2 separate regions of the Homo sapiens genome follow, and region 2 is linked to region 1. The links come from fine-mapping of genetic effects on gene expression. A gene starts in region 1. The other region holds a variant in brackets. All regions are shown on one strand. Distances are between the middles of the regions.

Region 1 (5,381 bases):
ACCTTCCCATTTTCAAGGCTTTGCTAATTTCATGACATTTGCCTTGTTAAATCCTGACTATTAGTGTTTGGGCTGGTACTGGGTGTTGATTATGGCACAAGGGAACTAACATTTCAGGCAGAGACTGTGTACCTGCTTAACACCCTTCATTTTATTTAACCATCAGAATCCTGGGAAGTTTTGTTATTTTTATTTGCTGGATAGGAAAATAAACGTTATACAATATACACTAATAAACGGAGGTGCCATTAAATACCAGTACTGCTTGATTCCAAAGTGACTGCTGCCTCCCCTACACTGTTTCACCTCCTCCATTATGTTCCCGAGGTAGTCTCTCATGCTGACCTGTATGTCCTCCGTACTCCATTAGCAAATTATACACTGTATCGCACCATCTTACATTTACACTCTTGTATTTTCTATTTTCGTATATGTAGTGCTTGTCGCACTCACAGCAGTTGATAATAATCTCTCAGAATAATTTTTTTTTCCCCTCAGAATGATCTGTCAGCGTCTGTTCATCCGACTCCGTATTTGGATATCATATAAATCGCGGGAAAAAATAAAAGGTGATTAAATACAAATAATTTTGACTGTGTTAGTCTTAGCTGCGTGTTGCAAGAAATGCAAAACGTCTTTCAAAATAAGTTTAACTCTCAATGAATCTCCCTGTGGCTTTTTAGCGACACTGCAAAACTAGTGCCTAAAAACACAGTGACTTGGCATTTGTGACTACTGATCACCTCCTCACTCAAGCACATCAAACAGCGGGATATCCTGGAAGTCGCACCTACAACCCGGACTTCCTAACAAGGAAAGCTAGACGAAGGGACGGTCTCTCCCAACCGCAGCGCGATGCGGGTCCTCCCCCCATCAGCTTCAGTCCGATGGAACATTCCGTGCGATCGCTTTGACCGGGCGCCACTCGGCGTCACGTGGAACTGGAGCGCCCTGGCGGAGCCCGGCGGAATGACGCGGGCTTGGGTTGCCAAGGGGAGGGACGAGGCGCCGCGGAAGAGGCGGAGCGAAGGAAGCCGGCCGTGGGGCGGGGTGCGGAGCGCAGGGGCGGGCAGAGAGGGGCGCGCGGGCGGGGAGGGCCCAGCGTATTATGGGATGCGGCGGTGGAATGGGGCTGGGCGCGTGATTTTGAACAAACCCTGGTCTGTGTCTCGGAGGCGCCGCCGCCGCCGCTGCTGCTGGGAGCCCAGGGAGCGCCGCGCGACCAGGAGGCGGCGGCGCCGCCGGCTTTGGTGAGTGTCAGCCCCCGGGATGGGGGCTCCTGGGCGGGCTGGCGGGAAGGGGGAACCGGCCCCCGCTGCGAGTGCCTGCGCGGGCGGAGAGCGCTGGACCGCTCCCTCCGGGAGCCCGGGCCGGTGGGCCTTGGCGGGGAGCGGGAACCCGCCAGCGGGGTCCGCCGCGCCCCTTCCCTGAAGCTGGGTTGCGGGGGGCGAAGGATCCTTGGGGCTCGGTCTCTTCCCGTCGGCTCCCGAGAGGGTGGCTGTCACCCGGCAGGGCCAGCGCTCGGCCAGCCGCCTGCCCGGCGGTCTGGAGTAAGGGCTCCTGCGGCTGTTGACACGCACACTGCGCGACCCAACAAGCCACCCGTGGCGGCCCCAGGTTTCTGGGAACCGGTTTTGCTGCTGTGTCATTTTGTGCCAGTCCCTCCTCTCCCTACTGCCCGCCGCCGCGTTCTTCCTATGCCCCTTTGTACAGGCTCTTGTTCGTGCGTGTCCGTTTTCCTCGCGAAGCCCACCAGCCAAATGTCATAATGTTCCCGAGGTGCACGGGGGAAGGGAGCGGGCCGGGACTTAGCTTGGCCAGCAACGGTAAACAACCAAGCAGAGTGCGGATGGACGGGGCCGTCAGTGGGGAAATGAAGTTTAAAGATGAAGTAATTGAGAACACTTTATACTCTCAGCATCTGGTAGTCTGCATATAAAAACAGCAATTGGGGTGGGTGGTGGACAGCCCTTGTTGAAGGCTGAATCTACCGACTTTTATATGGAGTTGCCATTGAAACAAGGTAGGGAAATGAAATGACTTTTTCAACTTCAACTTCAACCTTACTCTTCCTACACTAACTTAGACAGTAGAGTGGCCCTGTTCGCAGCCTTGAAATTCAGTTTGCCCAGAGCTTATGTTGTGGTTGAATGATACAGAATTCAGCTTTTGGATGGTTAACTCTTTCTAAAATTGACAAAGGCAGCCAGTTTCCTTTTTTTTTTTTTTTAATGCTGATCTCTTCAGAAGCCTTGCAGCTTATGTTTTGTTATTTTTTAAATGATTAAGAATTACCTCTGTTCTCTTTTGGTTACTTATTCAACTGACTGATGACAAGAGCTGGTAACTCTTACCTACCTAGTAGGTAGCTCTAGGATCTTGTTCTGAAGCAAGCTGTTTATTTTTACTGTACAGAACAAATATATCAGCAGCAGATGGTTTTTTTTTAATTTGATGACTTAGATCCTAAAAAAACATTTGGCAAATAATTTTAGCTAAGAGTTATATTTTCAATATTTTAGAAATCGATCATTCATGAATGTTTCTACAATTAGTTCAATCATTTCAAATCTAGTTGCGCTTTGACGTCTTAAACCGATGACAGATTGGAAGTCGCAGTGTTCATGGACAGAAATGACCAGATAAATTAAGTTGGAGAGGAAGATAGCTCAGAACTTTATTTTTTTAAATTAGATATTTTGACCACTTCATCTGCATGAGGATTGCTGCCTGTAATTGACAAAGGTGTCAAAGGTCGAACATGCATATGGAAATAGCTCATCCTGTCAAAGTAGTTCTGCGGGTGGGGTAAAATGTCAAAGTTGGTGAATGACATTAAAGGTCTTTCACAGTGTTTTTAGTGCCTGAGATAGCCACAGTGAATGAAACGCATTCCACCATCTCTCTCAAGTTGCTGCTCTGAAAATGAAAGAGTTTGGGTTCTTTATTGTCCTTATGCCACCCTCCGCATGGCTTTTGGTCTTGCAAACAAAAATATGCCGGACTTGGGACCCCGCAGGTGGCGCGACTTCCTTTGGCGTCCCTGCGGGGGCCCGTGCTCCGCCCGGGGGTGAAAGGTCTCGGCGTAGCCCGTGTGCACTTGCACGGCCCTTGTGCGTTTGAAGGTTGGCGGGGCGGCGGGAGGCTTCCCCGGATATGTGGGTGTGCGCCTCCCGGGTGGGGCGGGCGGGGAGGGGAGGAGGAGGAAGGGGGAGGTTACTGGTGGTGGCGGCGGCGGCGGCGGCCCGGGCTCCGGCTGTCGGGGAAGCTGCTGAGCTGTGATGGTGATGACGAGGTGAAAATGGCGGATCTTTCGAAATACAATCCCGGCCCCTGACATACCAGAGGCGGCGGCGACGGCGACGTCGCCACCCCGGCTCCCTTCTCGGTCCCCGGGTACCCTGGAGCGCTCCAGTTTGGACAAACTGGGAAAGGAAGCTGCTGGCCAGAGCTATCGTGCACGGGCAAAACAAGCCCCGCCGGGGCTCGGGATTGCCCAGGACCTTCTGGAGCCCCTACCTCGGAGCCCGAGGGAGGAGAAAGCGGCAGCCGCTGGAGGTAGAGGAGGATGGGGTACCCGAGGGCTTCTCTGTCCGGAGATCTCTTTATTTGGGGGGATGGGGGTGGGTGGGGAAAGAATTGCGCGGTGGATCAAGGAATGACTTGTCCGGAGTGCGAAGAATCAGTAGCCTCGTCATGACATCAACATTATTCTTTGAGTGTTAAGAGGGCTCCAGTTTGCTCTTATACCTAAGGCTGCTGCTGAGGCCTAGAGGAACCGCTAGCACTTATCATGATTTCCTGATATAATGTTTAAAACAGCCACTCTGGCGGGTGTTGCTTTGATGGTGTTCAGCAGTTCTTGGGGTTGTACGTTTCTTTAGGGAGGCAGAGCATTGGCATTTTATCTGCATTTAAGATCTGTGTCTTAGATCCTAGTCTGTAACTTGTTGGGTTGTGGATGTTCACATTTTATAGAATAGGGACCAGTTTTGTAAGAATTAGAAAAAAAATTTTTAATGCTCTGTTATCCTTAGAGTAACTAACCTCTTTGCCCCTGCCATTTGGCATATAACAATTGAGATACTCTCAGTTATATTTTATACTCATGCTTTTCAGGGAAGTTCTTCTCTATACTCACCCTCCTGCCCCCGCCAACCTAGTTCATGAATTCAGAGAGTAAAGTTATGAAAAATTTTGCTGTAGATTTTATAATGCAAATGAAATACAGCTCTAGGAGCTCTCTTTTGGTCCTGAGTTTTACCTTCATTGTTAAGAAGGAGAGTTGCGATGGGGTGATGCAAGCATTTGTTGTGAGTACATTAAGTTGGGAAAAATAAATTGAGACCTCTGTTATTTCTAAATCACTAAATGCTGGAGTGATTAGCCTAGCCCTTTGTTTAGAGAGCTGGATTGATTGACTATAACAGCCACTGTTTTATTAGGTTATCTGAAGACCCATGTTAAGTTTTAGGTTATGCTGAAAGATCCGTAAGGAGTCTGTCTCCTTGCACACAACACTAGTGTTACAGAAAAGTTACATGTGAATCAAATTTTTAGGCTGGGCAAAAAAATTTTTATACATTAATTTGGACCCTATGCTTTTCCCCCAGCTTTTTTGGGTCAATGACATTGAGTGTATAATGAACAGAAGGATTAGTATTGAGGAATGCCCATGGGTAATGTTTATGATTAGCCCTAAATTTCCGTATTCAAATTGTCTACAGAGAGTATATGTGATATTATTTCCTTATTCAAATTGTCTACAAAGAGTATATGTAACACACTGTGCCATAGTGTGTCATATATCACAAATTTTGTAGTTTACTTAGAGGGGAAATATTTTGTGTGAATAGGTGTGTATAGTTTGTAGGTCTGGCTTTCACTTACTAGAAGAATAAGAGACCCAAAAAAATTTTTAGGAGAAATACCTTAGAGGTACTCAGAAGGTTTAATGATGACGATAATGATTATTTTTTAAAAATAATTTGTCTGATGCTGTATTATTCAGTAGGTATTTGGTTTTGTCTTTTTAAAATTACAGTTTTTATGTTGCAGTTATTTGACCCATGCCTTATAGCTGCTGACTCAGTAGTAAGACTAAGAATTTTAAAAATAATTAAAATAGGGAGATTAAAAAGCTTTTTCATTGGCTTTCTTTTAATCACAGAGGGCTATTGTCTCTTTGTGATTCTTTGTGATTGTCTTTAAAGACCAGTTTTCAGATTGTCCTGGTTAGAACAATTGTGTATTAATAATTAAAAGTGTGTTAGAAATGAAGCAAGAATTATACCACCAGAGATAGTCCAGTGTTCATTTTTTGGGGGAAGAGTATTATAGATTTTCACTACTTTTTCTTTATTTTTTTCCAAGGCAGAGTT
Region 2 (5,381 bases), 85 kb after region 1:
ACCAAAACCTTAAATTAATATTTTCTAGTTTAAAGTGCTTGTTTGTATGTTAAAGATTCCTATACAGCTGCATGGCAGCCTGAATTCTCAATTACCCTCTCTTGCCATAGTGAGCTTTAATTTCAGACTTCATTATTTAGTATACTTCTGTTAGTGACCGCTTACTCACAGGTTGTTGAGTTAGTGGTTTAGATTATGTTGCTTGACTTAATCTGTCACAGGCTTTAAGACTTGAGTTGGCTGCAAATATAGCAAGCCTCACGATGGGTTGCTCCAATTTAATACTCAATAGCTCAGGTCTTTATGAATGCAACTCTGTGTACAGAACATTTGGTTTCGCCATTTTGTTTTGTTGTGCTAGAACGATGCAGAATTTTGGAATGTTTTCTACAAACAGTATCAGTGACTATGGTAAAGTGCTTTATTTTTCATTTTGCCGAAGAGATAGTGCTGTCAATTCCCAGTATTATTCATTCATTCAGCAACTATTCATGTAGCGTCTCTATGTCATGCACTATTCTAGGCACTGGAGCAACAGCAGTAAATAAGAATTGAACTTACAGAGCGTACATTCATGATTTAGGAGGATTTTAGTTAAAGAAATTCTAGTCTTCGTGTAGACTATTATCTTTTAGTTAACCACATAACCTTGCCTAGGTAATAAGTAACGTGTTTTATGTTAAATTTCCTGAACAATATTCTTACAATATGTGAATAAAACCAAATTTAACTTTTTAAAGCCCTTTTTAGGATGTGCTTGTGCTCACTGTGTAAATTGTGATGCTCATCCTGCTGGTGAATTGTGAAAGTGTCAGTAGAGATTTCCAGATGAAAGAATGTTATCCACTTTTGTTGTTATTTAACACCACCATCATCTTTCTCTTTCAAAAATCATTTCAGATTGCCATTTACATTTGTAACTAAGGAAGTAGCTGAAGCCACATGTAATTGCCTCCTTGCCCAGGCAGAGCAGGCAGACAAGAAGGGAAAATCAAAGGCAGCAGCGGAACGGATGATACTTGAGGAATTCGGACGATGTTTGATGAGTGTCATCAACTCTGCAGGAAAGGCAAAAAGTGACCCTTGTGCCATGAATTGCTAACTCTTGCACAAAAGACTGATAAATGGAACTGTACAGAAAATTTAAGGTGCAGGGACACTTGATTTTCTGGAAGAAAAACAATTACTGTATTTTAATTCAGTCCTTGTTTTAAAAGACCTGAAATTATAATACTGAAGGAGAAGAAATTTTAAATGAGGAAATTAGTACATTTTAAATCTTAGTTAAATCTGCTTATGCCCCTTCTAAATTGAATTTTTCTTTATTATATAGATTTTTTAATTTGCTTGGGTTTCTTAAGAATTAGATGTTCTCTTTCTGATACCTTTGACAAAAAATGTTTATAAATTCATATAATTTATAATGTATGGTGTTGTATGACTTTGTTAATAGAAAAGCCAAAGCAGCAGTGGTTAGCACCCATTCTTTGGGACTTGATCTAGAATATCTGCAGACAGAATGTTACATAAACAAATTCTTATGAAACACATTCAAATGACATTTTGTATTTAGAAAAGGACTATCTTTTAAAGAAAAAGCAGCCTTTTAGGGCCGATTCTGGAATAATATCCTGTTGTCACTTTGGGAATGTCAGAAGGGGAAACAATCCCCAGGCACACTAAAAATTTTTTAAAGTTATTTAAAAAAACATATAAAATATTAAAGGACAGTAAATCTCAGAGGATGGGCAATGTGTTTCTATAATAAGGAAAGGCTAACAGATGCTCTGGGCTGTCTCCATTTTCTTTCAAAGAGGTGGTATGTATTTGAAGTAATAAATTGTCAAAGTGATTACTGGGTACTATTAAAATGATAGGTGGATATAAATGGAAGTAAACATTATGTAGTGATAATATAGAACCTCACATAGTAATCAAGTATAAAATTTGGCATGGGTGGAGAAACAAAGAATAGGGAAGCTGCAAAAGATGAATTTAGAGAAGTTTTCATCTATACAATCAATTATTTTTACAGACTTTTTTTTTTTTTTTTTTGAGACGGAGTCTCGCTGTGTAGCCCAGGCTGGAGTGCAATGGTGAGATCTCAGCTCACTGCAACGCCTCTGCCTCCCAGGTTCAAGCGATTCTCCTGCCTCAGCCTCCCGTGTAGCTGGGACTACAGGTGCATGCCACCATGCCCGGCTCATTTTTTGTATTTTTAGTAGAGACGGGGTTTCACCGTGTTAGCCAGGATGGTCTCGATCTCCTGACCTCGTGATTCGCCCGCCTCGGCCTCCCAAAGTGCTGGGATTACAGGCATAAGCCGCCGTGCCAGGCCCTTTTTATAGACTTTTGAACTAAGAGGTTTCAAACCAAATCGCAACTCTTACTTGATTTACAGAAATGGGCCTCCTAACAAAATTTTCAAAATTGTGGTGGGATTTCTTTTTATAAGGGAAGTTTAATATGGCATTATTTTCAGCCAGTGATTTGGAAGGTCTGTTTTCCTATAATTACTAAAATAACCTAAATCATTTTCAGTATTCAAAAACTCTATGAATTTAAGAGCCTGTTGTGACAGGACTCTTGATTTTATGACAAGAAAAAACCATGTTGGAATTCAGGCATTTTGTTAGGTACCTTAATCATCAGTAATTAGTATATGATTATTTCATTTCCTACAAGGACTCTATAGTTGTATGTATTAAGTGTGTATATATGTTCATATGAACATGCAAGATATAGGCAATAGAAATTAAGTAATCCAAAAGAGGATTCCGTTATTCACTAAAGTATCTTCCTTTTAAATTTGGATTTATAAAATCATAG[T/C]GCAGTAACTTTAAATGTAGATAGTTCAAACATTCTTAGCACCTCAATCTAGTATGTTTAATTAAAATTTGTATAAATGTAAATTAGTGTAAGAGGGTAAAATAATAATCAAGTTATTTTTCAAAAGATTGCAATAAGTTTTTGGTCTAAACTTAAACTTTGTTCATTTTGTACATACTCTGTGTTAATTCTAATTGCACCTTTGTGATGTGTATTTATATACAGTGTGCAGAAAATGTTCGTGAAATTTTGATTACAATTGTAGATTATGTATGATGGCATTGCTTACGAATGTTTTGCTTGTAAAAAAATTTCAAGGTGCAATCAAATGCTACTAGTTTTTCTGATTTTCAAAAATCTATCTATCTAAAATATTAAGCCTTTTCCTTCCTGTGTAGTACTTACTAAATAACTTTTTGTATTCAGGCATTTGCATCAAATTGCTGAACAAGATGAATAGCCACATTAATTCAATGATTTTAAAAGACTATTTGGGGAGGGTTGGGTATATAATTTTTTAGCTCTATTTACATCCCAAAGTAGAAAGATTAAATTTATATTTACTAGAGCTATTCAAAGAATACACTTTTCTATATTGTAAAAACAGGACAGCAAAGTAAATCATACAGAAAATAAACATTTATACTATTCTGTAAAAAAGGTTTTGCATTTTTTCTTTAGTATAATAACACCACTTTATTAACCATTTAATATGCAAAAAACCTTTTAAATTATCTGAAGTAAATTTGACATTACTTCTGAAAACACACAACTAAAAAATTCTATCATTTTGCTCAGTTATTACTAACATAAATTGCTTTGAAATGAGAATATGTCTTCTCTTTTTTTCCCCACTGTTTCTTTTAAGAGCAGAAACTCAGCCGGGCATGGTGGCTCACGCCTGTAATTCCAGCACTTTGGGAGGTCAAGGCGGGTGAATCACTTGAGTCCAGGAGTTCTAGACCAGCCCAGGCTACATGGTGAAACCCTGTCTCTACTAAAAATATAAAAAAATTCACTGCGTGTGGTGGCGCACACCTGCAGTCCTCGCTACTTTGAAGGCCTGAGCCTGCAGAGGTTGAGGCTGTAGTGAGTCAAAATTACACCACTGCACTCCAGCCTGGCAATCAGAGTGAGACCTTGTCTCAAAAACAAAAATACCTAGAAAATCAATCTACTCTGTCTTTTAATGTGAAATGTTCTTATGATAGCTATCTTTCTTAGTTTCCTTTTTTTCTGAAGCACTAAACACAACCTGTAGGTCTTATCTCTGGGGTCTGGGAAACAGAACCTTAATGTTACAGGTACAAAAGCAAACAGAGTGATTAGTTCCCCATTTTCTGGTAGTGAACAACTGACATTTTTTCAATCTTATGTAAAATGTGAATAAAAATAATTTTAGAAAAGTTATCTATTTTTATTGTTCTGTAACACAAATAGTTAAGAAAATGAATACTTGTTATGTAAATGAAGCTTCACAGCAGGACCTCCGGCCATAACTTTGATCATGTTGTATCTCTTAAGCATTTTATATAGGAATTCTGGTGTGGCTACCCAAAGCAGAAGGGAAGGCAATCAACTAAAAATCCCTTTCTATTGGAGTTATTTTCATCATGTAAATTACTTCAGGCTTTTCTTGTTAGGGCTTCTTGAATGCACATTTTGTCATTATCTGTATACCAAAGGTGAGCTTTTTTTTTTAATCCATGTGATTTTATGAGTTGAAAGCTATAAGGTTTTTTTTAATTAAAAATTTCCTTCTAAATGGCAAATTTTGTGACAGCATTTAAGACACTCAGTTTCTATTCAAAAGCAATAAGAAAACAAGTATGTTTAGGGTTATGTTTATTATAAGGTCACTGGGACTTTATAAAACTGTCATCTATCATACTGGCATATGAAATCTGGTCATAGTATTATAAAAAGAATACATCATGACCAAGTAGGGTTTATCCTGGGAATAAAAGTTGATCCAATGTTTTAAAAAAAACATAGTTCACTGTATCAGCATACAAATAAGAAAAGCTAAATGATCATCTCAAAAGTTGCAGAAAATGACTGTGGATATAGGTAAAACTGCTAAATTATATTTTCTTGTTTGTTTCTTGAGATGGAGTCTCACTCTGTTGCCCAGGCTAGAGTGCAGTGGTGCGATCTCAGCTCACTGCACCCTCTGCCTCCTGGTTCAAGCAATTCTCATGTCTCAGTCTCCCGAGTAGCTGGGGTTACAGGCATGCGCCACCAAGCCTGGCTAATTTTGTATTTTTAGTAGTGATGGGGTTTCACCACATTGGTCAAGCTAGTCTCCAACTCCTGACCTCAGGTGATCCACCCGCCTTGGCCTCCCAAAGTGCTGGGATTACAGGCGTGAGCCACCGCGCCCGGCCACTATATGCTTATTTAAGAGGGTAAATATTATGGTTATGTGAATTTTATCTCAGAAATTTTTTTACCCAAAAGGTGCAGAAAAACATATCTGGTAAAATTCAGCCACATATGATTCAATAAACAAAAAAATAAAGTCTTCAGAGAACTAAGACTAAACCTGATAA

Evidence for each region. PIP is the estimated chance that this variant, and not a neighbour inherited with it, causes the effect.
Region 2: its variant is the best candidate, but not a certain one, in a credible set for the expression of LIN54 in blood mononuclear cells (TOPMed, PIP 0.79).

Annotation. Positions count from the first base shown.
Region 1 is chr4:83,008,661-83,014,041 of GRCh38, reverse strand. It overlaps LIN54 (lin-54 DREAM MuvB core complex component), which reads left to right and starts at 3,219. Exons shown (of 13, transcript NM_194282.4): 1 at 3,219-3,558. RefSeq lists enhancers at 776-905, 513-1,398, 3,280-3,379 and silencers at 1,076-1,405, 3,130-3,209.
Region 2 is chr4:82,923,823-82,929,203 of GRCh38, reverse strand. It overlaps LIN54 (lin-54 DREAM MuvB core complex component), which reads left to right. Exons shown (of 13, transcript NM_194282.4): 13 at 901-4,601. The coding sequence ends at 1,102. Among named protein-coding and RNA genes, the nearest start is that of THAP9-AS1, 26 kb to the right of the region's middle. The variant T/C (reference allele first, on the strand shown) is at 2,830.